Linked DNA regions of Homo sapiens. The protein of the gene in region 3 purifies or fractionates together with the protein of the main gene of each other region. This does not show direct contact. Each region holds a gene or a part of one and is shown on either strand. Other genes may lie near its edges. The genes, in order: ALDH1L1, ACP6, SDHAF3 and NUDT9.

Region 1 (8,116 bases), on a different chromosome or scaffold from region 3:
TTCTTTGTATTCAGTTCTCTGTTAGAGCCTCTGGTGTGATGTTTGGGCCCTGACTGGACTGGCTCTCCTCTCCGGTCTCCTCCTCTGTCACTCTGTCCTGGTGTCTGGTAGTTTTGAGAGAGGGTGGGATGTGATGTCAGCAGATTGGACTGCACTTGCAAAAGCTGTCCCACAGTGACCAATGAAATACTGCTTCAGGACATCTGAGATCAAGGCCAAGTAGGAGTCCCAGCCAGGCCTGGTCTGGGTCCAGGGTCAGCAGCTGGGGTCAGTGGTCACTTAGTGGCTGGGTGTAGGACCCAGGCTGTGGTGGGGTCAGGGTATGTCATGGGTCACTTGTGGTCAGGTCCAAGACTGAAGCCTGGCTGGCATTGGGTGTTGAGTGTTGGAGTTGATTCTAGGGCCAGGCTGCAGCTTCCCCACTGAGGGAGACTGGCTTTCCTTAACAAACTACACCTCTGTGCCTGGCCAGGCCTACAAGCCCCCTTTCCTAATCCTGGCCCTCTATCCTTAAGCCCTGCCCCACAGTCTGTCTCCATCAGGCCTGAGAAGGACCAGTCAGTGTTCCTAGAGGGTCTGTTCATCCAAGCTGAGGCCCCTGCATCCTGTCTGCTGAGGTTCCCAGCTCAAAGGCAGTGACCCAGACCCATGATTCTCAAAACGTGCTTTTCCTAGTACAAGAGATGCCAGTATCTCCCAGGAACTTGTCCCAGGTTAACAATTTCACCTAATTCTGACTTTTCCACCTCATTCTGAATCCGAAACTCTCAGGGTGCGCTTAGTACTCTCTGTGTTTTTTTCTTTTCTTTTACAAAATGCCAGGGGAGAGTGCAAATGCAGTTCCCCATTACCACAAATTATGAAGTCGAGTTTCCCACCTTTGGGGAAATTGCAGGGATCAGCACATCCAGAGTACAATGGAGAAGACTCGCCCTGGGAAAACCACCTTTGTGATCATGGTCTCTCCCCTGATGGGTAAGTAGAGCACTATGTGTTTTGACGGCAGCCCCAGCAATGGTGATGCCGCGCATGCCCACCTTTCAGAATATGGACCCCCAGTTCAGAACATGGAGACCTTCCCAATCATGGGTGCTGGGTCAGAGAAGCTCTGTGTGGGACCTGGGACCAGGCTGGGCTTCTCTATAGCCCTTCTCCAGGACCCTAATGCCACCCCATGATCAGGTGGGGAGGGGATCTCCAATTTATTCCAGAAAAGCCCAGCAGCCTGTTGGCACTGGAGCAGGATTCAAGGTAGACCACTTATGGCTGCCTCCCAGCTAGAGCACAGGCCCTGCAGACTTCTGCTCCCAGACTCCCACCTACTGCTTCCCTTCTACCTGGATGGGCGGGCCGCCCTCCATCAGCTTCCCTGCTCCATTGGCTCACTCACCCAGGGGGTCGGCCTTTCCATCCTTGTCTGGAACAGTGAACACACCCACCACTTCGTGGCCCTCCTTCCTCAGGTGGCAGTAAACTTCCTGGCCAAACAGGCTCTGTCCAATCACTGCAATCTTCATGGTAGCAGGAGGGTTGGAAGGACCTGGAGAAGGAATAAGGCAGCAATTAGACAGAGATCGCTGGTCTCAGAGAAGCCAGCCCTGGTTCAAGACAGGGCAGTTCATGGCACCTGGCCTGCTCTACCCCAGTCCCCTCTGTGGCTCTGTGGGTGGCAGGCCACTGAGGGGAGACTGCCACTGTAAGAGAGACCAGATGAAACATGTACACATGACCCAATGGATCCCTAATGTCAGAATATTCAATGCGACAGCAGGTGAGCTGGAAATGGATTGTAGAATTAGGGGATTTCTTTTTGAAACCTTCCAAACTGGCATGGAATGTTGGGTGTCAAGATGTTTGATATGTATTTGAGCATATTTCTGTAACTAACCAGTTCTATGGCCTTGGTCAAGTCACACTTGTTCATGAGAAAGATGCCACATCTCTCAAATGGCTTTCAGCCTACAAATTAGGCTTATTCCTCTGAGCCAGGAGTCACAAAAGGAGCAAGGGGAGTCCCCGCCGAAGGGGCTGTCCAGCTGAGCTGCAACAGAAAAGGGGCCTGCGTGGGGGCGCCTGAGGATGAAGGTGGTGGAAAGTGGAATGGGATTCCACTAAGGAAGATGTGTAGAATGAAGCCTAGCTAATCATGCACATTCTCCAAAGATTGGTCATTCATTCACCTCACGCATATCTGTAAAACCTGAACTATTATTCACTTAATACAGTTCTTTAAATTGTCCTTTTACGAAAATAAGATTTTATTTTGGAAAATTTTATTAAAGTAATGTGTACTTCATACATACAGAAAGTGCACAAATCATAGATGTGTAGCTCAATGAATTTCACAAACCAAACACACCACTGTCAACACCACCAGAAAGAGAAAAACTCCAGGAACTCTTTGAGCCTCTTCTAGTCACTACATTCACCAAGAATGATGGGACTTCTAACAGCATCGAATGGTTTCGCTTGATATATATATATATCCCCTTTATATGTATTCATTTTACATAAATGGAACCATGCAGTGTTTTGTAGATTTTCTCCCTCAACATTATCTTTGTGGTTGCATGTAGTTGTACTGAGTTTATTCTCATTGCTGCAGAGTATTTTGATATGTGGATGACCTCTAGTTCATTTATTCATTCTATTGTTAATGGAATTTGGGTAGTTACCAGTTTAAAGGTATTACAAATAGGATGCTACAAAGATACTTGCACATGGTCTTCATGGTACACATGTACACATCTCTGTCAGGTGTGTACTTAGGGTGGAATTCCTGGGTCATAGGTGTGAAAATTTCCAGCTTTAACAGACGCTGCCAGTTTTCCAGAGTGGTTGTATTAGTTTCCACTTCCATGTGCTCTCCACTTTGGCTTGTGTCTTCATTTTAGCGCTTTTCCTAACATGAAATACAGCTGTCTCATTGGGGTTTAATTTGCAATTCCCTGATGACCAATGAAGTCGAATGCCTTTTCCTGTTTCTTGGCTATTTGGATATCCTTTTGTGGGAATCATCTCTTCAAATCTTTTGTCTGTTTTTTTCCATTGGGTGGTTTTATTCTTATTGAAAAGGAGTTTTTTTGTATTGTTGCTCTGTTTTGTTTTTTAATCATCTAGACTTTGAGCTCTTTGTCAGATATGTGTATGGAAAATATCTTCCCTAATTCTGTGGCTTGCCTTTTTCATCCTCGTATAATGTCTTTTGATGAACAGATGTTCTTAAACTTAATATAGTACATTTTATCAAACATTTCCTTTATGTTTAGTGGTTCTTGTATTCTATTTAAAAAATCTTTGCCTACTCCAACTTCATGAAGATGTTCTCCTTGTCATTCAAGATCTTTATTGTTTTGCCTTTTACATTAGATGTGCAATCCCTCTGGAACTGATTTTTTCATACAATATAAGGTAGAAGTCCAGAATTTTTTTTCCATCTGCATATAAAATTAACCCAGCACTAGTTACTGAAAAGACGTTTCTTCATTGAAAAGGATCATACATGTACACATCTATCTTTGAAACTTTAGTCAGTTTGTCTATCTTTGCATTTAGTATAGCTTAAAAATGTTTTTTGTTGTAGTGGTGAAGATACATAACCTAAAGCTTTATTGTAGCTGATCTACCTAGTAGTTGTGAAGTGGTATTTCATTGTGGTTTTGATTTGTATTTTCCTATTGAATCATGATGTTAAACATCTTTTCATGTGCTTTTTGGCCATTTGTATACCTTCTTTGGAGCAATGTTTATTCGAGTTTTGACCCATTTTAAAAATTGGTTTGTCTTTTTTGTTGCTAGCATATAGAAATACAATTGATTTTGTACACTGACGTTGTATTAACTAGCACCTTAATTGCTTCACATATAAATTTTCATACTGTGTAGATTCTTTGTGGTTTTCTAAGTATAAAATCATGTTATGATGTTGGTTTTAATTCTTTCTTTCTAATCCTGAAGTCTTTCATTTCATTTACTTTCTTATAGCACTTGCCAATATATCCACTACAATATTGAATACAGATGGTGATAGTAGTTCCTGTCTCATTCCTGTGACCTTGGGAAGAAACCATTCAATATTTGACCATTGGTTAGCTTTGGGGAATTTTGGTAGATAGACTAGCATATTATGAAAGTTGTCTTATTAATATATTTCTGGCTGCCAATCATGACAAGGAGTTGACTTTTACCAAATGTTCTTCCTATAGGTCATGAGATTTTTATTTTATTGTGGTGGATCATAATGATTGATTTTTAAATGTTAAGCCACCTTTGCATTCTTGGAATGAATACCACTTGACCATGATGTATAACCTTTCTATATATCTCTGAATTTGAAGAGCTGGTATTTTATTTGTTTTTAAATCTATGCTTGTAAGAAATATTGACATGAACCAGTCCCAGTCGCTCATGACTGCAACCCCAGCACGTTGGGAGGCTGAGGTGGGCAGATTGCTAGAGGCCAGGAGTTCAAGACCATCCTGGGCAACATAGTGAGACCCCATCTCTGCAAAAACAAACAATAGCTGGACATGGTAGTACGTGCCTGTAGTCCCAGCTACTTGGGAGGCTGAGGCATGAGAATCACTTGAGTCTGGGAGGTCTAGGCTAGAGTGAGCTGAGACCCTACCACTGCACTCCAGCCTGGGCAACAGAGTGAGACTATGTCTCAAAAAAAAAAGGCAAGGCAAGGCAAGGTAGGGCGGGGCAGGGCAGGGTGAGGCAGAAAAGAAGAAAAGAAATATTGATGTGTCAAATACTTCATTGTAACAAATGTCCTATTCAGGTTTTGGTGTAGCTTTCTCTTTCTTTCAACTTTTATTTTAGAAACAGGGGGTGCAGGTGCAGGTTTGATATATGAACATATTGCACCCAGGTAGTAAGCACAGTACCCAACGGAGTTTTTTCAACCCATTCCCGTACTCCCTCTAGCAGTCTGCAGTGTCTGTTGTTCCCATTTTATGTGCATGTGTGCTCAATGTTGAGCTCCCACTTACAAGTGAGAACGTGCAGTATCTGGTTTTCTGTTTATGCCTTAATTCACTTAGGATTACGGCCTCTAGTCCACCCATGTTGCTGCAAAAGACATGCTTTCACTCCTTTTTATGGTTGTGTAATATTCCATGGTGTATATGTACATTTTATTTATCCAATCCACCATTGTTGGGCACCTAAGTTGATTCCCTGTCACTGCTGTTGTGAATAGTCCAACGACGAACATACAAGCGCATGTGTCTTTTTCATATAATGATCTATTTTCCTTTGGGTATATACCCAGTAATGGGATTGCTGGGTTGGATGGTAGTTCTAAGTTCTTTAAGAAATCTCTAAACTTTTCTTTAAGAAACTTCCACAGTGGCTGAACTAATTTACATTCCCACCAACAGTGTATAAGCGTTGTTTTCTCTATAGCCTCACCAGCACTGTTATTGACTTTTTAGTAATAGCCATTCTGACCAGTGTAAGATGGTATCTCATTGTGATTTTGATTTGCATTTCTCTAATGATTAGTGATGAGGAACATATTAAAATTTTCCTCATTTTAATTAGTGATGAGGAACATATTGAAATGTTCCTCATTTGTTGGCTGCTTGTACGTGTTTTTTTGGGAAGTGTCTGTTCATGTCCTTTGCCCATTTTTTAATGGGGTTATTTGTTTTTCGCTTATGGAAGGGATGTTGGATTTTATCCAAAGCTTTTTCTGTATCTATTGAGATGATCATATAGTTTTTGCTTTTAATTCTGTTTATGTGGTGAATCACATTTATTGATTTGTGTATGTTAAACCAGCCTTGCATCCCAAGAATAAAGCCCACTTAAGCACAGTATATTAACTTTTTGATGTGCTGCTGGATTTGGTTTGCTAGTATTTTGTTGAGGATTTTTGTGTCTATGTTCATCGGGGATATTGGCCTGAAGTTTTCTTTTTTTGTTATGTCTCTGCCAGATTTTGGTATTAGGCAGATGCTGGCTTCACAGAATGAGTCAGGTAGGATCCCCTCCTTTTCAATTTTTTTGTAATACTTTCAATAGGATTGGTGTCATTACTTCTTTGTATGTCTGGTATAATTCAGTGTGAATCCATCTGGCCCTGAGCTTTCCTTGGTTGGTAGTTGTTTTCATTACTGATTCAGTTTCAGAGCTCAATATTGGTCTATTCAGCATTTCAATCTTTTCCTACTTTAGTCTTGGGAGATTGTGTGTTTCTAGGAATTTATCCATTTCCTTTAGATTTTCTCATTTGTGTGCATATATTTGTTCACAGTATTCTCTAAGAATCTTTTCTAATTTCTGTGGATTGGTTGTAATGTCATCTTTGCCATTTTTGACTATACTTATTTGGATCTTCTCTTTTTGTGTGTTAATGTAGCTAGTGGTCTAATGATCTTGTTTATTTTTATTTTTTTGAAAAACCAACTCTTGATTTCATTGATCTTTTGTATGGATTTTTGCATCTCAATTTCATTCAGTTCTCTAATTTTTACTTCTTTTCTTTGACTGGCTTTGGGGTTGGTTTGTTCTTTTTTTCTAGTTCCTTTAGGTGAAGTTAGTTTGTTAATTTGAGATCTTTCTATCTTCTCGATGAAGCCATTTAGTGCTAGAAACTTTCCTCTTAACACTGCTTTAGCTGTATCTCAGAGATTCTGGCAATAGGTTCCCCATATTCAGGGTTTCTTCTACTTTAAACCGCACCCCTCGTCCTTCTCCACCGGTTCAAAAACTGCTCCAACCAGTCAAACCTCCCCTGCCATTCTCCCTCTCCGGGAAGTGGCCAGGGTTAAAGGCATTGCTCACGTTCATGTCCCCTTCTCCATGTCTGATTTGTGGCAGATAGAACAGCTTCTGGGATCTTTCTCTAAAAATCCCTCTCATTATCACAGGGAATTCCTGCATATAACTCAATCCTTTCATTTAACTTGGCATAACATTTATATAATTCCAAAATCCACCCTTACCTTTAATAAAAAAGAGTGCTCAGCTTAATTAAAATGGATATCCAAGAAAGTATATTCAAAAGTCCTTTATGTTTTTCTCTTCATAAATCTTGTTTTCCTGAAAAAAGTTTTTTTCTCAGCCAAAATTACATTTCTCCACTCTGTCTTGCCACTTTTAGTGCATGTTTATAGAAACTTAACAATGTCTTTATTAATAATTTTATTATAAAATTTCATAAACCATGTTTTTCAAAATAAATTTGTATCAAATCCAGCTTCCCAAAAATGCTAATAGTTAAGTATATCAATGTACTAAGTAAATCATTCACTCATACCCACTGGGAAAATTTAATGTTACTGCCCTTCACAGTGAAAAAAAAATCTTTCATTTTAAAAATTAAATTTAAAAATGTTACATAAGTTGGCACTTCAGTAGTGTATACACTAGCATTAGTTTATACACTACTTTTGCCACTGGGGAATTCAAGTTAAAATGCCCCTCTGTCATATAGCTCTAAAATACATCTTTCATTCATAATTTCTGCTCATACAATTAAATAGTTTGGGTCATTTTCATTTATACTATAAAACAAAAGCAAACTAGTCCAGTTTAATTTTTTATACTTAAAATACTGCACATTTTCTGTATATGAGTCATTCAGATTAGTATCTACGTAGGTTCAGTCAAATCCAACCATAAATTCAAGTTATTATACTATATAAGCCTATAAAATACATAGAAGTATTATTACGTTGCCTTTATAACAAAACCCAAGAGTCTGTTTCAATTTATAAATTCAGCATTTAAGCAAAAAGATTTTAGTTCCCAAAGTTCTAAAAAAATGACAAAACAATAAGGAAAAAAGGAACCAGGGCTTAGTGCCGCATATTTTTCTCTTGGGGTTGTAAGGTAGTCTCCTTCTTTTCAGAACACTTTATTATATTTCACTTATAGACCTAACTTTCTGTGTTGAAGTATAATTCTCATGCTGAAGCTCTAACCTAAAAAGGCAAAAAAAGTTGTCTTCATTGTACAAACATATTCATCGCTTTAACAAGATAATAAGGGAACAAAATTTAGAATGCAAGCTAAGTAAGAATACTATCTCTATAAACATGTCCCTAAGATAAACCATAATTGGCAGCTAATTTACCTGTCTAGAAAATCTCAGTTCCCACCAGCA
Region 2 (3,518 bases), on a different chromosome or scaffold from region 3:
ACTGGTGGTTTGAAATCAGAGAAGGGTTGAAATAGATTCTGGAGAAGAACAGCAACATTGACAAGGAGATAGGGGGATCATCAGGTACTCTTAGGGGGCACAGTTAAAGGTGGAGCTCTTATGTTGAGTAGTTCCAGCCTTACCATTGCAGAGCCCTGGGGCCCACATTTGTTTCTGGAACTAAAACCACCAGGGGCCCAGTGTCCTTCCTGCTTCTTCCTGCTGAGCCTCCACATCAGGGTTCCATCTCACCACCCAGCAACGTTCCCTGACCTTGAAGCCTATCCTTTATCTAAACGCAACACGCTTTCATCCTTGCTTTCCTGGTTAACTCCTACCCACCTTTCTCTACTCAGATCAGGCCAGGACTTTTTCAGAAGCCTTCCTTGACTGTTCCCCACATCCCCTGCCATGTGAGCAGGAAGTTTCTTCTCTATACCCAAATAGCCCCTCAAATACCTATTACAGCATAAAACATACAGCACTGTATCACTGATTTACTCGGCTGCCTCTCCCACTGGACTGCAACAACTTGAGGGCAGAGTGTTTTCACCTTTATAATGATCACTACTTAGTAGGTAGCTCAATACATGTGAAATTAATATAGGAGAAAAGAACTAAAGTCCAAAACCGACACAATTCTACAGGGTCATGATGTCCCCAGCCCGTGTCACACAAAGATGCTTCTAACCTTAGAAACCAACTCACAAAATAGAGAAATATCCTTTTGGTCTCAATATTATACCCCTTTTCCGTTCAGGAAGAAATCTTAGTAAACCCACAGAAAGGAAATATCCTTACATTATATTAAAGTACATTACCCCTTGCTCTCTCCTCTTCCCAAACACACAAAGCAGGAGGCATTGTATAAAGGCACTTTATTTTAAAATCAACACATCCTGCTTTTATAAATCAGTTACTCTTCATTTCCAACTTCCATCACCTGAGTTTGAGAGCAGAGTGCGTGGTATTTTTCTGGGCTTAAGGTATAAACTGACATGGCATTCAAGAACATGTCCAGCGGGCAGAGCCCATCAGGGCAACCTCTCGGCACCTGCTCCTGCAGAAGAAACATAACTCAGCAGGTCCGCCGAGGAACCTGTCCTTCTGCTATTTCCAGCTAAGCCCAGAGATCTGAGAGGCTCTGATCCATGTGGTATACATGTGCATACATATTACAGACAGGAAGGCCCCACTACCCGGTGAGCTTCCAGAATAAAAGCACTATGCTCTGCTTGTAAAAGTCACTCAAAAAGTGTTGAATTGACTGGGAAGAAAGAGTCGAGTTACATCCCCGAGCTGGGAGAACCAACAGGCTCATCCCTGGGGCGTGCTCTGGCCTCTGCCCTGGACCCCAGCCCTGATGAAGCAGCCAACACCACGGGTGCTAACAGCAGCACACATCACCTCCCAAAGATACCACCAACAATCTCCAAAACAGGTCTCACAGCCAGGAGGCGACATCCTGACAGGGACGCTCAGGAGAAGAGGAGGGGGACCCTGTTCCTAGGAGTCTGTAACAGAACTGGGATAAGGCTCAAGCCCCATCCTGCCACCATCTGTCAAGTTCTGCCTGACCCCTGGGCCATAGCCAGGAGTTGCCCTATAGGATTCAGAGAGCTGACTGTGCCAAGAGAGACTCCACTGGGCCTGAGGAGGGAGACTTGGTGCTAACTCAGGTAGGTGGGTTTTGCAGGAGGGTGCCTCACCACCACCCAACCCCACCTCAGGGGTATTACCTTCCCGTGGTAATAGAGCTGCACAAACCACTCCTTAGATTCCAGGTGCTGGTAAAGTTCCATGGTCAGGTCAACAGCAAACGGTGGCCATTTGTGGTCAAAAATCCCCAGGGTCATTAAGAGCGGTATGAAGGTCACATCATGAGCCGCATAGAGATACAGCTTTCTGCAAGAGGAAACAGCTCTCCACAATTCTCTGCCTCAGGACTCTGAAGGTCAGGATGTGGCCTGCCTCCTTTACGTAAGACACACTTGCCTCAGAAACTAGGTGACATCTAGAAATCAGCTGAGCCTGGTATAAAAGTCCTTTGCAGTAGATCGTGGGAAGAACCCTTGTTCCCACTCCCCGTGTCTTCATGAGGAGGGTCCCCGCCAGAGAAATTCTCCTGGCCTCCTCCTTGCCACCTACTCACTCCTCCCTGGTGAGTTTCAAAGAAGAAACTGAGCGTGTGTGGCTTAGACCCTACCTCTCTTCTCTCTTTGGGTCCTGCCAGCCTACATGAATGCCCTTCCTACTCTCAGCCATGGGATGAGTTTAGTAGGGCTCCTTGTTGGGGAAGCTTGAAGTTTTGGGGTATTAAGTTTATTTCAAAATAATATTCACAAGCCCATTTGGCCCTCAGCACATTCTCCAAATGGCTTTAATCTGTAATAAGAATGCCATTTTAATCTACATCTGCCTGACACCAGTATCCATCTCTTAGGAAAGACCAAGGATTTTATTTATGGACCCCCATCCTAGAAGACTAGCATTGGATCCTGTGGTGTTCTAAAGATCCAAGGCAGAAGGTGGCAAGGTGGCAAAAGCCAGAAAAAATGTACTGTCATTGCAGGTACTGTGAAGGACAGGAAATGGTATTCACAAGATTTGCTATTACAAATCTTGGCCCAAAGTTCCTGTTTCAACTCACTGTCTCCTATTCCTCTTACGCCATCATGAGTTTCTAGCTGTGATACCACAACAGTGCTTCTCCAAAATTCAGGTGACTATCAATCACCTGGGGATCTTGTTAAACTGCAGATGCTGATTTAGTAGATCAGGCTGGAGCCTGAGAACCTGATGAGTTCTTGGGCAACGGTGAAGCTGTTTTCCTGCAGAACGCACTTAGCAAGTGCCTAGGACACATAATATTCCACAGCCGTAGTCCCAACCTTGGATTCAAGGCTCCAAAAGTGGCAATGGAGGCTCATGAGCTACTTCCAACATTTTTTTTTTTTGAGACAGAGCCTGGCTCTGTCACCAGGCTGGAGTACAGTGGTGTGATCTTGGCTAACTGCAACCTCCGCCTCCTGGGTTCAAGCAACTCTCCTGACTCAACCTCCCGAGTAGCTGAGACTAAAGGTGCGTGCCACCATGCCCGGATAATTTTTGTATTTTTAGTAGAGCAGGGTTTCACCATGTTGGCCAGGATGTTTTCAATCTCCTGACCTCGTGATCCACTCACCTTGGCCTCCCAAAGTGCTGGGATTACAGGCGTGAGCCACTGCACCTGGCCACTTCCAATATTTTTAAATGCCTTATGGATATCATACCTTCTTTACACTCAATGAAAGTGGTTCAAACTACACAATCCATTAAGCAATTTATCTTTGTTTTGGACTATTATCATATCAAATCAGTGTGACATCATAATTGGCTACTGTTTGACATATCTTCAATTAATAAAAAAAAGAGAGAGAGAAAGCAAAAATAAAATTTTCAAAACATGGTAGGAGGGGTGCAGCAGGAAGAAAGGTTAAAAGATTGTGAACCTCTTTGACACTTGAGGCCTGTTAAAC
Region 3 (7,399 bases):
TCCTTGTCATTGATGGCCTTAAAACTTTTGAAGGGTACTGATCAGTTATTTAATAGAGTGTCCCTTAATTGAACTTTATCTGATGTTTTCTTATGATTAGATTGAGGTTGTGCATTATTGGGAAGAATACCACCGAGGTGATACATCCTCTCAGTGCCTAATTATCGGGAGGTACATGAGGGCAGTGTGACTTACTACTGGTCATGTTTACCTTGATCATTTCATTGAGGTGGTATCTTTCAGCTTTCTTCACTGTAAAGTTGCTATTTTTCCTTTATTACTTCTGAGACTGGCGTTGTTATGTAGTTTTTCATAGTCTGAATCATGCTGATTGCATTCCCATGGTGATGTTTAACACTTAGGTCTCTTGTGTTTCCTGTAAATTGATAATTAGATGTAGAGGCTTACTAGGTGTATTTTTTTGTTTGTTTTTGGTTTTCTTGTTGTTGTTGTTTTGGTAATATGTACTAATATCAGAAGACATGTAATATCTGGTTGTTTCTCTATGTTATTCCTTGAAATGGTTTATTTAGTTTGATTCTAAATGCTGGTAAGAAGAAATCTAATATAGTTCATTTCTATTCTTTAAAAACATCTGTATAATAGATAAATGAGTTCTAAAATTGAAGTAATTTAAGATAATTTATAATTTGATTGTTTTCTTAATGTTATTAAACTGACACTTTTTTAGATTTTAATTTTAGGTTTGAGGGTACATGTGAAGGTTTGTTGCATAGGTAAACTTGTGTCATGGGGGTTTGTTGTACAGATTAGTTCATCACCTAGTCATTAAGCCCAATATCCAATAGTTATCTTTTCTGTTCCTTCTTCCACCCTTATGTAGGTGTCTGTTGTTCCCCTCTTTGTGTTCGTGAGTTCTCATCATTTAGCTCCCACTTACAAGTGAGAATGTGTGATGTTTGGTTTACTAAAAACTAAGCAGTCCTCTTGCCTTGGCCTCCCAAAGCTCTGGGATTACAGGTGTGAGCCAGTGTGCTCGACCATACCAGTAATTTAATAGTATCAATTTGATTCAGACTATAAGCAAGTTTAATATACAGGTAGAGAATTAGAGAGTACAGTGAAGGCATAGCTGGCCTTATAATATTTAATTGTTCTATCACTGACAAACTGGTACTACAGCTTCTCTGCCTTTTCAAAAACTCTAGTGGGAAACAGTATAGCATGAACGTTAGTTTTTTTCTACTAGGAGACTTTAAGACTGTGTTTCTGTAGTTCACTGCTGTATTAATTTCCTGTGTCTGCTGTAATAAATTACCACAGCCTGACTTAAAACAATGGTAGTGTATTCTGGAGAGGCCTAATTAAAGAGTGAGAGGCTCTAGGGAAGAAATCCACATCTTTCAGCTTCTGGTGGATCCAGGATTCCCTTGAATTATGGCCATATCGCTCCAAACTTATTTTTTCTTCATATCACATTCTCCTCTGTATGCCTAATTTATCTCATCCCCTCTAAGAATACTTGTGACCGTATTTTCAGGACCATCAGGATAATCTCATCTCAGAATCCTCAATCACACTTGCAAAACCTATAATATACATATAAGGTAACACAGTTTCAGAGATTAGGACTTGACATATTTTGGGGACACCATTCAGCCCACTGCACCTGCTCTCACCATACTCAAAAGTGTCTCTCTTCGACAGCTTTCTGCTACTTGAAGCAGCTGCTTAACTTACCCTGAGGAAGCACTGCACATTCTCTTTGGTTCAAGAGAGCAATCATAGGGAATCTTCTAACTTTCGGGATAGCATTATTCTTAGAAGCCAGCATAACAGTTTGAAACCAAAGGATGCTGTTAGTTAATGTGTAGTGTAGTATTTTTCTGTTCTGAGTCTCTTCCCTCCAGGTAGATATGCTTGGCGGGGTGACTTAGTCATAAATTCACATTTTACTGCTGCTTCTTCCTATATCTGGAAACCTCCAAATTGTGGTCCTGAAGTTATTTTTATTTTGGCCATTTTTCTCTCTTGCCAGGAAAGGAATGCTGTTGCAAGTACATGGAGTCAAAGACTAGTCGGTAATGGGTGGTGTACGGGCGAAAGGTTGGGTTTTTTTGTTTCCTTTTCGTGAGTCTTTCTACCCAAGATGTTCATTCATTGATCATTTCTCACACATGAAATGTATTTCTACTTTCCATAAGAAACATTATTCCCATAATTATTATAAATTATACCCTAAGTGAAATATTCTCTGAAATTATGCACAAAGTTATGAAAATTTTCAAAAATGGGAAAGTTATGTATTCACCACTCAGATTTAACAAATATTAATATTTTGAAATATTTAGTTCACTTTTTTAAAGTAAATAAATATTAAAAGGTACAGCTAAAATTCCATTCCCCTTTCTTACTCCTCAGAGGTAATCAGGATCCTGATGTTGGTTGTTTCCATGCTTGTTTTTATGTTTTGTACATTTGCATATATTTGTAAATGATATATATATTTTTAAACTTTTAAAAAAGATTTTTGCTTTATTTTTCAACAATTTAACTATCATATGCTTAGGTATAGTATTTTGTATTCTGCTTGGAACTTGCTAAGCTTCTTGAATTTATTTTTCCTTAAAATATTCATTAAAATTCATAAAACTTTATAAAAATAAGATATCCGGCCAGGCACAGTAGCTCAGGCCTGTAATCCCAGCACTTTGGGAGGCTGAGGCGGGTGGATCATGAGGTCAGGAGATTGAGACCATCCTAGCTAACGCAGTGAAACCCATCTCTACTAAAAATACAAAAAATTTACCTGGGCGTGATGGTGGGCATCTGTAGTCCCATCTGCTGGGGAGGCTGAGGCAGGAGAATTGTGTGAACCCGGGAGGCACAGCTTGTAGTGAGCCGAGATCGCGCCACTGCACTCCAGCTTGGGCAACAGAGCGAGACTCCGTCTCAAAAAAAAAATAAGATACCCATTAAAATTTATTTTTCTGCTAAGGCAGTAACCTCTTTTCTTGGATTCCACTTAAACTTACGGTAGATCTTTTGGCATTGTTTCACAGATCACTGATCTTTTACTCATTTTTTAAATAGTTTTGTTCTGTTTAAAACTGGATAATTTCTATTGCTGTATTTTCAAGTTCATGAATCTTCATCTCCAGTCTACTATTAAGTGACATTTAAAAAATTCCAGATAGTGCATTTTTGAGTTCTAGAATTTATTTGGTTCTTATAATTCCTCATTCTCTGCTGAGATTTATCTGCCCCATTTATGATGACCGTATTTTCTTTTACATACTTAACATTTATAGTACCTGCTTTAAAATCTATCTCTGCTTATTCTAATGTCTGAATAATCTCAGGCACTGGTCTCCATTGATTGCCTCTTCTCTTAACTGTGTTTGTAATAATTTTTAATTTTTTTCCTGGACACTGTAAATGATACATTGTAGAGACATTATTCTAGATTTTTCCTCACCCAAACGGAAACTCGGTGGCCATTAAACAGTAACACCCTCTCCTACCTCCTCCCAGCCCTTAGTATTATCTATTCTTTCTGTCTATGAATTTTCCTATTCTAGATATTTCATGTAAGTGGAATCATACAATATGTCTTTTTATGTTTGGCTTCTTAGCATAATCTTTTTAAGGTTTATCCATGTTGTAGTATGGATCAGAACTTCATTCCCTTTTAAGGGTGATAAATATTCCATTGTATGTGTATACCACATTTTGTTTATCTGCTTGCTGGTGGACATCTAGGTTATTTTCCAAATGTCGTCTATTGTGTATACAAGTATGTGTTTGAGTTCCTGTTCTCAGTTATTTTGGTAATATACCTATGAGTGCATTTGCTGGATCATATGGTAATTCTGTGTTTAACTTTCTGAGGAACTGCCAGTCTTTTCTGCAGTGGCTATACCATTTTATATTCTCATTATCAATGTATGAGGATTCTAGTTTATTCCAACTGTTATTTTTCTGGGGTTTAAAAAATTATTATAGTAGACATCTTAGGGTGAAGTGGCATCTCATTGTGGTTTTGATTTACATTTTTCTAATGGCAAATGATTTTGACCATCTTTTCATGTACTTGGCCATCTGTATATCTTTGGAGAAATGTCTATTCATGTGCTTTACCCATTTTTAAATTGGGCTATTTGTCTTTTAGTTGTGGTTCTTTATATATTCTGGATAATAAACCCTTTTCAGATACGATTTGCAAATTTTTTCTCATTTTGTAGTTTGTCTTTTTACTATTAGGTGTCCTTTGATGCACAGAAGTATTTAATTTTGATACTGTCCAGTTTATTTTTGTTGTTGTTGCTTGGGCTTTTGGTGTCATATCTAAGAACCTATTGCCAAATCAAAGGTCATAAAGATTTACCTATATATTTTCTTCTAGGATTCTCATGATTTTAGCTCTTATATTTAGGTCTTTGATTCACTTTGAGTTAATTTTTGTATATGGTAGAAGATGGGGTGTCTAACTTCACTCTTTTGCATGTGGAAATTCAGTTTTCCCAGCACCAGTTGTTGCCTAGATTATTCTTTCCTCCACTGAATGGATTTGACATCTTTATCAAAAATCAATTGGCTATATATGTAAGGATTTACTTCTGGACTCCTCATTCTATTGGTGTTATATATCTATTCTAATGCCAGTGCCACACTTTTGTTTAATGTGGCTTTCTAGTTAAGTTTTGAAATTGGGAGTTGTGAGTCCTCTGTTTTTGCTATTTAGAGCTCCTTAGTTGTCCATTTTTGTAAATGAATAATTTCTTAAAGCCTGCTTTTTAGATTTTATTTTTTGGAGTTTCATCCGTGTTGATACATAGACTTGTAGCTTATTTGTTGTGACATCTTTATTATCATCTGAGTAAATTTCAGTGTATTTGACTTTTCTATTGAAGTACAATTATTTCCATTTTTTTTTTTTTTTTTGCTTTAACAATCAACATTCTTCTGCATGATACTTGTTCACATGTTTTAAAGTTTCTTTAGGATGGTAGGGTGATTTTTGCCTTGCCAGGAAACCTTTGGCAGTGTTTCGAGACATTTTAGATTATCAAGACGGGGAGAGGGGTGTTACTGCCATCTGGTGGTCAGAGACAAGAGATGCTGCTAAACATCCTGCAATGCAGACTCTCACTGACCCCTCCCCACCCCTACCCCCCCTACACACACAAAATAGTGCCAAGGTTGAAAAACCCTGCCTGCCCTGAAGCATATAGAAGTGGAATTGATAAAACTTGAAATGTTTTCATCTTAATAAGTGGATTTCTGTAAATCATGGAAAAAATATTTTCTCCATAGGTTTGGAATGTTTGGAATTAAAGTTGCTCTGGCAATGCTGCCATTCCAGCAATTACAAGCAATTTATATATCTCAAGCCAGATCAGGTAGCAGCATTATCCAGAGTTAGCCAGTTCATTCACTTTAACTTCATGAACTAAAATACTTTGGCACTTTGTCTGCTTAAAAGATTAATTTTAGAGTGAGTCTGTTTCAAAACAGTGGCACTTGTGCAGATGGGGATAGTTGGAATATTAGGCTGAATGTACTTAATAAGAGCAAAATTAGAACATGAAAAAGTTTTTCTTGACACAGATGGTTGTTAAACATTGAAGACTTAAAGGTTTAAGAAGTTTTTCTCTAGTATATTTTAAATTAAAATTGTAATTGAAGACATAGGAATGAATTTAGACTCACTTGAAGATGTGTTACATGTCACCGTGGAATACTGTGCTGCCATAAATAGGATGAAAGCATGTCCTTTGCAGCAACATAGATGCCATGATCCTAGGCAAATTAACACAGGAACAGAAAAATAAAATTTTAAGTGGGAGCTAAACATTGAGCACACATGGATGTAAACTGGGAACAGCTGACAGCATGGACTACTGGAGGGTGGTATGGGTTGAAAAGCTACATGTTGGGTATTGTGCTTACTCCCTGGGTGACAGGACCTGTACCCAAACTTGAGCATCATGCAGTTATTCCCATCTAACAAACCTGCACATGTACCCCTTGTATCTAGGGGATATATGTGCAGGTTTAAAATAAAAGTTGGGGGAAAAAAGACCCATGGTTCCTGTTTGAGAATCCGTTGAAAGCTATGGCCCCAGAAATGATGTCCGTACTTGTGTAAATACAATTTTGCATATGGTTTGAGGTGGTTTATGCATGCTTCTGAAGCCCATCCAGGGACTCACCACTCTTTACTTATATCCAGGTTAAAAATTTTGCTAAAAGTTGGTTAAAACACTTAAAGTGCTAAAAATAGATATACATGAAATGATCAATGAATTGTATCTTCACAACTATATTTATATCTCCTTAACCAAATGCTTCTGCATTTACTGATGAGGAAAAATAGGTGACTCAGAATTAGAATTCAAGTCCTCTAATGTTAAATATTATTTAAACTTTACATCTATAACCTTCATTCTTTATCTTTTTAGGTGTATGCAACAGCGTTATTGCAACAGGCTAACGAAAACAGACAAAATTCAACTGGAAAAGCATGTTTTGGCACCTTCCTCCCAGAAGAAAAACTTAATGACTTTCGTGATGAACAAATTGGACAGTTGCAGGAGCTGATGCAAGAAGCCACAAAACCCAATAGGCAATTTAGTATTTCTGAGTCTATGAAACCAAAATTTTAGTCTATACAACAAAGCTTAATAAGACATGCAAAAATTTAGAACCCCTACTTTAACTGTCATTGGTTTTTGAAATATATTTAAGCTTTGAAAACACCTGTTATTAATGAAATACTCTTTTATTTTGGATATTATGATTGCAGTATATGGATCAAGATCACTAGTGACAATTGAAAAAAACTATTGGAATAATAGCACTTGTATGAAATTCAGTTTTGGAACTAAACAGCAAATTTCTAGAATTTTGCTGAAAATGTTTTAAAATGCTATTCTCATCCAGCCATATTAGTCTTCTGGCTTTTCTTTAGCTTCATCAAATAAGCATGTTGTGATAATGATAGATGTACAATTCCAACAAGGTTATTATTTTTTAAATACATTGTCATTCTGAACATTTTATCACTTCTAGTTTAATAATACATACATGATTTTTCTTCTGAATGTCTCTTCTCCCTGCATCACTGTTCATTCACAATGAAAGGTTAGGAAGAAGCTTTAAAATTCACTATTTTACTATCAATCATTTGTATAATAAACTATACAAAGTATAATACGTTTCCTCCAGTGTTTGTTTGTTAATAACAACCCCTGAAATAATGTGTAGCTACATTGAGACTCTCATTTATCAACTAATAGTTGAGGACATTACAAATCAACTTAAGTATAAGAAACTTTCCTAAGATCTCAAATTTAAAAAACGGTAACCCCATTTACAACATAAAATGTGGATTTTAAAAAATATTATGCTAAATGACTTGTATCTTTAGTTATTG
Region 4 (8,116 bases), on a different chromosome or scaffold from region 3:
CTTAAATTAGGACATCTCAAGTGGGAAAGGAGATTCTGAGGACATGGTAAAATTATGATAGCTCCTTTCCCCTGCTCTCACAATACCAGTCAATTTGCCCTTCTTAAGACAAATGATTGACGGGGCAAATATCCACTTGACCAAGGTTGTGGACTAAGTCAACAGCATGTGCCTCCTGATCTCATACAGTGAGAAGCATGCAACAGTCATTTGAGGTATTTCTCCCAAAAATATATGACATGAATCTGAACATTAGGAAACACAAGACAGACCCAGGTTAAGAGACATCTTACAGAATAAAGGTGTGTACTCTCTAAATTGGTAAGGTCATGAAAGATAGAGAAAGGTGCAGGAACTCTTCCAGATAGATTAAGACTAAAAAGACATGACAATTAGAAGCAATCAATGATCTTGGATGGGCTGATGACCATAAAGGAAAAAATAAACATTGCAGGATAGGTAGTAAAGTTTGGATGGGGTTGTATAAATAATTTTAAAAGGTGAATTTTTTTAAAGTATCTATTTACTCCCAACAAAGAAAAACCCAGGACCAGATGGCTTTACTGATAAATTCTACCAAACATTTAAAGAAGAATCAACACCAATATTCCCTCAACTCTTCCAAAAACGTGAAGAGGAAGTAAACACTTCCAAACTCACTCTGAGGCCAGCATTATCCTGATACTAAAGCTTGACAAAGACACTATAAAAAAACTACAAACCATTATCTTTGATTAATACTGATGTGAAAATCCTCAACAAAATAATAACAAACAGAATTCAACAGCACATGAAAAGGATTATATGCCATGACCAAGGGAGACATTCTTGGAATCCAATGATGGTTCTATATAATGAAAATCAATCAACATAATGTATCACATTAACAAAATAAAAAAAAAAAACACAATCTTCTTGATTGATGCAGAAAAATTATCTAACAAAATTCAGCACCCTTTCACGATTTAAGAATATTCAACAAACTAGGAATAGAAGGAAATTACCTCAACATAATAAAGGCCATATATGAAAAGCCCACAGCTAATGGTGTGAAGGTGAAAGACTGGAAGTTTTTCCTCTAAGATCAGGAACAAGACAAGGATGTTCACTTTAATCAATATAATACTGGAAGTTCAGCCAGAGCAATTAGGAAAGAAATAGAAGTTCTAGCCAGAACAATTAGGAAAGAAAAAAAAAGGAAAAGGTATCCACATTGGAAAGGAAGAAGTAAAACTGGTTGAGCATCCCTAATCCAAAAATCCAAAATCAGAAATTTTTTGAGTGCTGATATGATGCCACAAATAGAAAATTCCACACCTGGCTTCATGTGATGGGTCACAACCAAAACTGTTTCAGGCACAAGTTTAAAATACTGTATAAAAGTATCTCCAGGCTACCTGTTTAAAGTATATATAAAACATAAATGAATTTTGTGTTTAGACTTGAGTCCCATCTCCAAGACATCTCATTATGTGTATGTGAATATTCCAAAACCTGAAATCCAAACCGCTCTGGTCTCAAGCATTTTAGATAAGGGATACTCAACCTGTATTTACACATCGCATGATGTTTTATGTAGAAAACCCAAGATAATTCATGAAAAAACTGTTAGAACTAATAAATGAATTCAGCAAAGTTGCAAGGTATGAATCAACACACAAAAATGGTTACATTAAAAAACACTAACATGCTGGGTGCACTGGCTCATGCCTGTAATCTCAGCACTTCAGAAGGCAGAGGCTAGTGGATCACCTGAGGTCAGCAGTTCAAGACCAGCCCGGCCAACATGGCGAAACCCTGTCTCTACTAAAAATACAAAAATTAGCCGGGCATGGTGATGTGTGCCTGTAATCCCAGCTACTCGAGAAGCTGAGGCAGGAGAATCACTTAAACCCCAGAGGCGGAGGTTGCAGTAAGCCGAGATCAAGGCTCCATCTCAAAAACAAACAAACAAACAAAGCACTAATAATTAACAATCCAAAAGGAACATTAAGAAAATTCTACTTACAATAGCATAGAAAAGAATAAAATACTTAGGAATAAACTTAAGGAAGCAAAACTCTTATACACTGAACACTACAAACTATTGCTAAAAGAAATTAAAGACACCAATAAATAAAAAGACATCCTATGTTCATTGACTGGAAAAAAATATTAAGATGTCAATACTACTCAAAGTTATCCGCAGATTCAATGCAATCTCTGTCAAAATCCCAATGATGTTTTTCCAGAAAGAGAAAACTCTACCTTAAAATTCATATGGAATCTCAAGGAACCCCAAATAGCCAAGACAATCTTGAAAGGGAGAAACAAGTTCAAGGTCTCACACTTACTACACAGCTATAGTAATCACAACACTGAGATACTGGCATACAGAAAGACATATAGACTAGTGGAATAGAAGTAGAACCCAGAAATAAATCCTCACAATAATTTTTGACAAAGGTACCAAGACCATTTCAACAGGGAAAGGGCAGTCTTTTCAACAAATGGTGCTAGGAAAATTGGATATTCACATGCAAAAGTAGTATGAAGTTTGACCCTTACCTTTCACCATATAAAAACATTAATTAAAAGTGGGTCAAAGACCTAAACATAAGACCTAAAATGATCAAAATCTTAGAGGAACACATGCTGACAAAATTTCACGACACTGGATTTGGTGATGATTTTCTGGATATGACACCAAAAGTACAAGCAACAAGAGAAAAAATTGGTAAGCTGGACTATATATTACATCAAGATGAAAAACTTCTGGGTATCAAAAGACACAATCAAGAGAGAAAAAGCAACCCATGGAACAGGAAAAGATACTTGGTAATCACATGTCTGATAAGGGGTTGGTTATATCCAGAATATAGAAAGAACTCCTACACACAACAACAACAAAACAACCCAATTTAAAAACGGGCAAAGGACTCCAATAGACATTTCTCCAAAGAAGATATACAAATGGCCAATAAGCACATGGAAAGATGCTCAATACCACTAATTATTAGACAAAAGCAAGTCAAAACCACAATGAGATACTACCTCAGACCCATTAGAATGACCACTATCAAAAAAACAATACAGAAAATAAGTATTGGCAAGGATGTGGAGAAATTTACTTGCAATAAAAAAAATGACATCAAACAATTTGTATTTCTGTAAGGCATTGCTGAAAAAAGATTCAGTAAAGTCCTATAATATGGTACTATTTTTATAAAGCAATGACATAAAAAATAAATAAGCACATTTCAGTGCATGTATATAATGTATTAGTTTTCTACTGAAGCCACAACAAATCACCACAAATTCAATGACTTAAGACAATAAAAATTCATTGTCTTACAGTTTTGTAGGTTAGAAGTCCAACACAGGTCTCACTCAGCTAAAGACAATTTATCAGCAGGGCTGCATTCCTCTCTGGAGGCTCAAGAGAAAAATCCATTTGCCATACTTTCCCAGCTTCTAGAGGGAATCCTCATTCCACCTGCATTCTGTGGCTCATGGCCCCCTTCCATCATCTTCAAAGCCAGCAACATAGAAATCTCTCTGACCATGTATTAGTAATCATATCTTTGATCACGGCCAGGCCATTTTTTAAGGACTCTCAATTAAATCAGGCGCACCTTCCAGGATGCTCTCCCCATCTCAAAGTCCTTAACCTTAACCACCTCTGCACTCTCTTTTGCTATGTAAGGCAACATATACACAGGTTCCAGGTATCAGGATGTGGACATACTTGGGGGGCCATTATTCTGCTTACCACAACTGTCTATACTATTTATTATATAAGCATATATAGAAGGAGCCATATAATCAGGTTCTTAATATGGGCTAGGAAATAAGGTGCTGATGTGAAGAGAAGTAGAGGCAAACAGAAAGAGGGAAAAGAAAGGAAGGAGAACGAAAAGGAAAGGGAGGGGGAAAGGGGAGTACAGGAGAGAAGAAAAAGGAGATGAGGGGGAAAGAAGAGACAGTGGCAAAGATGGGGGGGAAACGGGGAGAGAGAAAAGGAGAAAAGGAAAGGGAGTTGCAAGAAAGGATAAGAAAAAAAGAACAAGAAAGAAAAACAAATTTAAAAAGGATAAGAAAACTGAAGGAAAAGGAAACAAGGAAAAAAAGAGAAGGAAAAAAGACTACCCAAATTTACCAAATAAAGTGAGGTATGCCTGATCAAATTTATGCAATTAGGGCAAATTACATAATTATATATATATAAAAAGAAACTTCTCAGTGGGGCACAGTGGCTCACGTCTGTAATCCCAACACTTTGGGAGGCCAAGGCAGGGGGACTGCTTGAAGCTAGGAGTTCAAGACCACCCTAGGTGAGACAGTGAGACCCTTATCTCTACAAAAAATTTTAAAAGTTAGTCAGGCATGGTGGTATGTGCCTGTAGTTGCCGCTACTCAGGAAGCTGAGGTGGGAGGATCTCCTGAGTCCAGGAGGTCAAGGCTGCAGTGAACCATGATCACGCCACTGCACTCCAGCCTGGGCAACATAGTGAGATCCTGACTCATTAAAAAAATAAGAAACCTTTTTAATTAAAATTCTTAACCTGACTTACAAGAACTGCTTCCTAGACTTCCTCCTGGTCCCTCTTCGGTGTATATAGTGTAAACATGTACCTACCATTAGGTATCATACGCAAGTTTCACTGCCCTAAAGGCAGTGAATTTTACGTGTACAATTCCATAAGAGTTGATGCGTGTCATTATACATTTGTCCAAACCATAAAGTACAAGACCAAGAGTAAACCCTGATATAAACTACAGGACTTTGGGTGATGAAGCGTCAATGTAGGTTCAATTTTAACAAACGTATGGCTCCGTGGCTCTGTGGGGATGTTGACAATGCGGGAGGCTATGCATGGGTGGAGGTAGGAGGTATACAGGATATCTCTTATCTTTAGCTCAATTTTGGTGTGAACCTAAAAACTGCTCTAAAAAAATGACTATTTTTTAAAGTCCTCTGTGCTACCCCAATTCATCCAACTCCTGATCTTTTTACTGTCTCCATAGTTGTGCCTTCAAGAATGCCATATAGTTGGAATCATACAGCCTTTCCTTCAGTTAATAATATGCATTTAAGATTCCTCCATGTCTTTTCATGGCTTGATAGCTCATTTCTTCTTAGCACTAAATAATATAATATCCCATTGTCTGGATGTACCGCAGTTTATTTATCCATTTACCTACTGAAGAACATCTTGGTTGCTTCCAAGTTTTGGCAGTTATGAATAAAACTGCTATAAACATCTGTGTGCAGGTTTTTGTGTGGACATAAATTTTCAATTCATTTGGGTAAATACCAAAGAGTGTGATTGCTGAATTATAAGTGTTGAGTTCTGTAAGAAACTGACAAACTGTCAGTTGGATTTTTAACTGGTTTCATTCTTTCCTATTCTTGTGTGTCTACAGTTTTATATACTGTTCAAGCTGTTCTCTTTCATCACATTTAAAGACTCTGAAACAATTACTATTTCATTTTACACTCACTTTACATCTGCAAAGTGTGGTAAAACACCCAAAAATGAGGGAAAACCTAACTAATAAAGAAGTTAATATCCCCAGACGGGCTGAAAACTAGTGTAACGTGAGCGAGTATTTGATTTGTGACTAACTTTACTAAAAGCAGTAGGTTCATTCACTTTCATATTATGATTATGACAACTTTCTTGCCTCAGCTGCCACAGTTTAGGAAACCTACACAATGAATATTCTGAAAATAAAGTCTCCCTCACTCACCTTAAACCCATACTCAATAAAAAATGAATACATATATGAAACACATTTATCAAAATTAGCAAACAGACTTCAGGTGTTTTAAAAAGCAAAATTTTAACATATGGAACCCTAATCTCTAATTGAACCCTATCACAAAATGAGTTATGTTTCATGGTTTGGGAGTAGGGCAAGAAAAAAGTTAAGGCCATTAATTAAATACCAAACAGGAAACACTAATGCTGTTCCACTCCATCCCACCCACGTACCAAAAATGTTTAAATAACTTAAGGCTCTTTGTTCCCTGATTTAGCAATAAAATGTTTATGGAATTCCACAAATCTACCTACTTGACAAGACAGATTTACACACTGGATTATTTACTTTTCTAAAACAAATTTAATTGTGCAAAAATTCAGGCTATACATCTTATCACATCAAGAAGTGCTAACACTGCTATCTATATATGCTATTTAAATGTGATACACTGTAAGGTACCAGAAAAAAGAATACTTGTAATACACACATATACAGCCTTGACCTTTGTATTGTATTATTGAACAAGTGCAAGAAATATATTTGGCCTAGCAAATGGGAACTAAGTAGCTGATAAAGTCCATTTACATGGCAAAAACCAATTCTTAAGACTGGCAAACTTTTAAAAATGCAATACTGACGTGGTGCTTTGAAATAAAATCTGCAACAATCATTGTCATAATCACACCTAAATGTATATAGTGATTGCTATGTGCAAGACAGTGTTCTAAGCACTGTAAATTAACTCACTTGATCCTCACAACTGAGTTCAGGTACTTTTTTTTTTTTTAACTTTTTTTTTTTTTTTTGAGACAAGGCCTCACTCTGTTACCCAGGCTGGCATGCATTGGTACAATCATGGCTCACTGCAATCTCGACCTCCCAGGCTCAAGCAATCCTCCTACCTCAGCCTCCTGAGTAGGTGGGACTATAGGCATATGCTACCACACCTGGCTTTTTTTTTTTTTGGTTTAGTTTTTTGTTTTTTTTTTTGGCAAGGGAGTGGTTTGGTAAATCAGGTAGGCTGAGCGACTCCCAATTTTGTTTATTTTTTGTCAAGATGGGGTCTCACTCTATGTTGCCCAGGCTGGTCCTGAACTCCTAGGCTCAAGCAATCTTCCTGCCTCGGACTTCCAAAGTGCTGAGATTACAGGTGTGAGCCTCCACACCAGGCCATATTATCCTTTTTCAATTTTTTTTTTTATAAATAAGAACATTAAGGCCAGGCGCAGTGGCTCACGCCTGTAATCCCAGCACTTTGGGAGGCCGAGGCAGGCGATCGCAAGGTCAGGAGTTCAAGAACAGCCTGGCCAACACAGTGAAACCCCGTCTCTACTAAAAATACAAAAAAATTAGCTAGGCATGGTGGCAGACGCCTGTAATCCTAGCTACTCACTAGGCTGAGGCAGGAGAATCGCTTGAACCCTGGAGGCACAAGTTGCAGAGAGCCAAGATTACACCACTGCACACCAGCTGGGGCGACAGTGCGAGACTCTGTCTCAAAAAAAAAAAAGGAAATAAGAACATTAAGACCCAGAGAGGTAAATAAGTTTACCAAGGTCACACAATTGAGAGTAGAAATCAGGATCCAAACCTAGGCAAGCTGTCTTAGAATTCCAGGCTCTTAACACTATGTTTTACTATCTCTATTTCATTTTTGGTTCATTCATATGTTTTATGCATTCACAGGAATAAAACAATATTCTACACACATCACCAGTAGATCCTTCTGGAAGATTTGTATGTTGTGGTATGTAAAAGCATTCACTACATCTTTGTAATATACTACCTTTTTTCTAGAAAATGTACATTTGATGACTGGGAGCAGTGTCTCACACCTACAATCCCAGAACTTTAGGAGGCCAAGGCAGGAGGATCACTTGAGCCCAATAGTTTGAGACCAGCCTGGGCAACATAGGGAGACCCATCTCTACAAACAATAAATAAATTTTTAATTAGCCAGGCCTGGTAGTGCGCACCGGTAGTACCAGATACTCAGGATGCTGAGCTGGGACAATCACTGAGCCCAGGAGGTTGAGACTGCAGTGAGTCATGATCACACCACTGCACTCCAGCCTAGGTGACAGAGCAATTAAAAAAGAAAATGAACATTGGAAACCTTCTAGTAATCACAAAAACTAAGTGCAAAACTGTCACTTTCTGGGTTTTTCCAAATTATCAAAGACTGGTAAAATTCTTTTTTTTTTTTTTTTTTTCAAAGAGACAGGGTCTTGGCCAGGCGTGGGGGCTCACACCTGTATTCACCAGCACTTTGAGAGGCCAAGGCAGACAGATTGCCTGAGGTCAGGAGTTCGAAACCAGCCTGGCCAAAATGGTAAAACCCCATCTCTACTAAAAATATAAAACTTAG

Evidence for each region.
Region 1: the proteins of SDHAF3 (region 3) and ALDH1L1 purify together in Homo sapiens (co-immunoprecipitation; one large-scale study listed by IntAct). This does not show direct contact.
Region 2: the proteins of SDHAF3 (region 3) and ACP6 purify together in Homo sapiens (affinity purification with mass spectrometry; one large-scale study listed by BioGRID and IntAct). This does not show direct contact.
Region 4: the proteins of SDHAF3 (region 3) and NUDT9 purify together in Homo sapiens (co-immunoprecipitation; one large-scale study listed by IntAct). This does not show direct contact.

Annotation. Positions count from the first base shown.
Region 1 is NC_000003.12:126,159,463-126,167,578, forward strand, and holds part of ALDH1L1 (cytosolic 10-formyltetrahydrofolate dehydrogenase), read right to left. Parts: intron 1,541-8,116; coding exon of another isoform or gene 1,518-1,540; coding exon 1,391-1,517; intron 976-1,390; exon of another isoform or gene 823-975; intron 714-822; exon of another isoform or gene 621-713; intron 1-620. UniProt on the Homo sapiens protein: Cytosolic 10-formyltetrahydrofolate dehydrogenase that catalyzes the NADP(+)-dependent conversion of 10-formyltetrahydrofolate to tetrahydrofolate and carbon dioxide.
Region 2 is NC_000001.11:147,646,507-147,650,024, forward strand, and holds part of ACP6 (lysophosphatidic acid phosphatase type 6), read right to left. Parts: intron 1,906-3,518; coding exon 1,740-1,905; coding exon of another isoform or gene 1,671-1,739; exon of another isoform or gene 1,061-1,670; coding exon 917-1,060; 3' UTR 1-916. UniProt on the Homo sapiens protein: Hydrolyzes lysophosphatidic acid (LPA) containing a medium length fatty acid chain to the corresponding monoacylglycerol.
Region 3 is NC_000007.14:97,174,587-97,181,985, forward strand, and holds the end of SDHAF3 (succinate dehydrogenase assembly factor 3, mitochondrial precursor), read left to right. Parts: intron 1-2,876; exon of another isoform or gene 2,877-2,912; intron 2,913-5,673; exon of another isoform or gene 5,674-5,763; intron 5,764-6,425; coding exon 6,426-6,629; 3' UTR 6,630-7,177; downstream 7,178-7,399. UniProt on the Homo sapiens protein: Plays an essential role in the assembly of succinate dehydrogenase (SDH), an enzyme complex (also referred to as respiratory complex II) that is a component of both the tricarboxylic acid (TCA) cycle and the mitochondrial electron transport chain, and which couples the oxidation of succinate to fumarate with the reduction of ubiquinone (coenzyme Q) to ubiquinol.
Region 4 is NC_000004.12:87,425,558-87,433,673, reverse strand, and holds part of NUDT9 (ADP-ribose pyrophosphatase, mitochondrial isoform a precursor), read right to left. Parts: intron 1-8,116.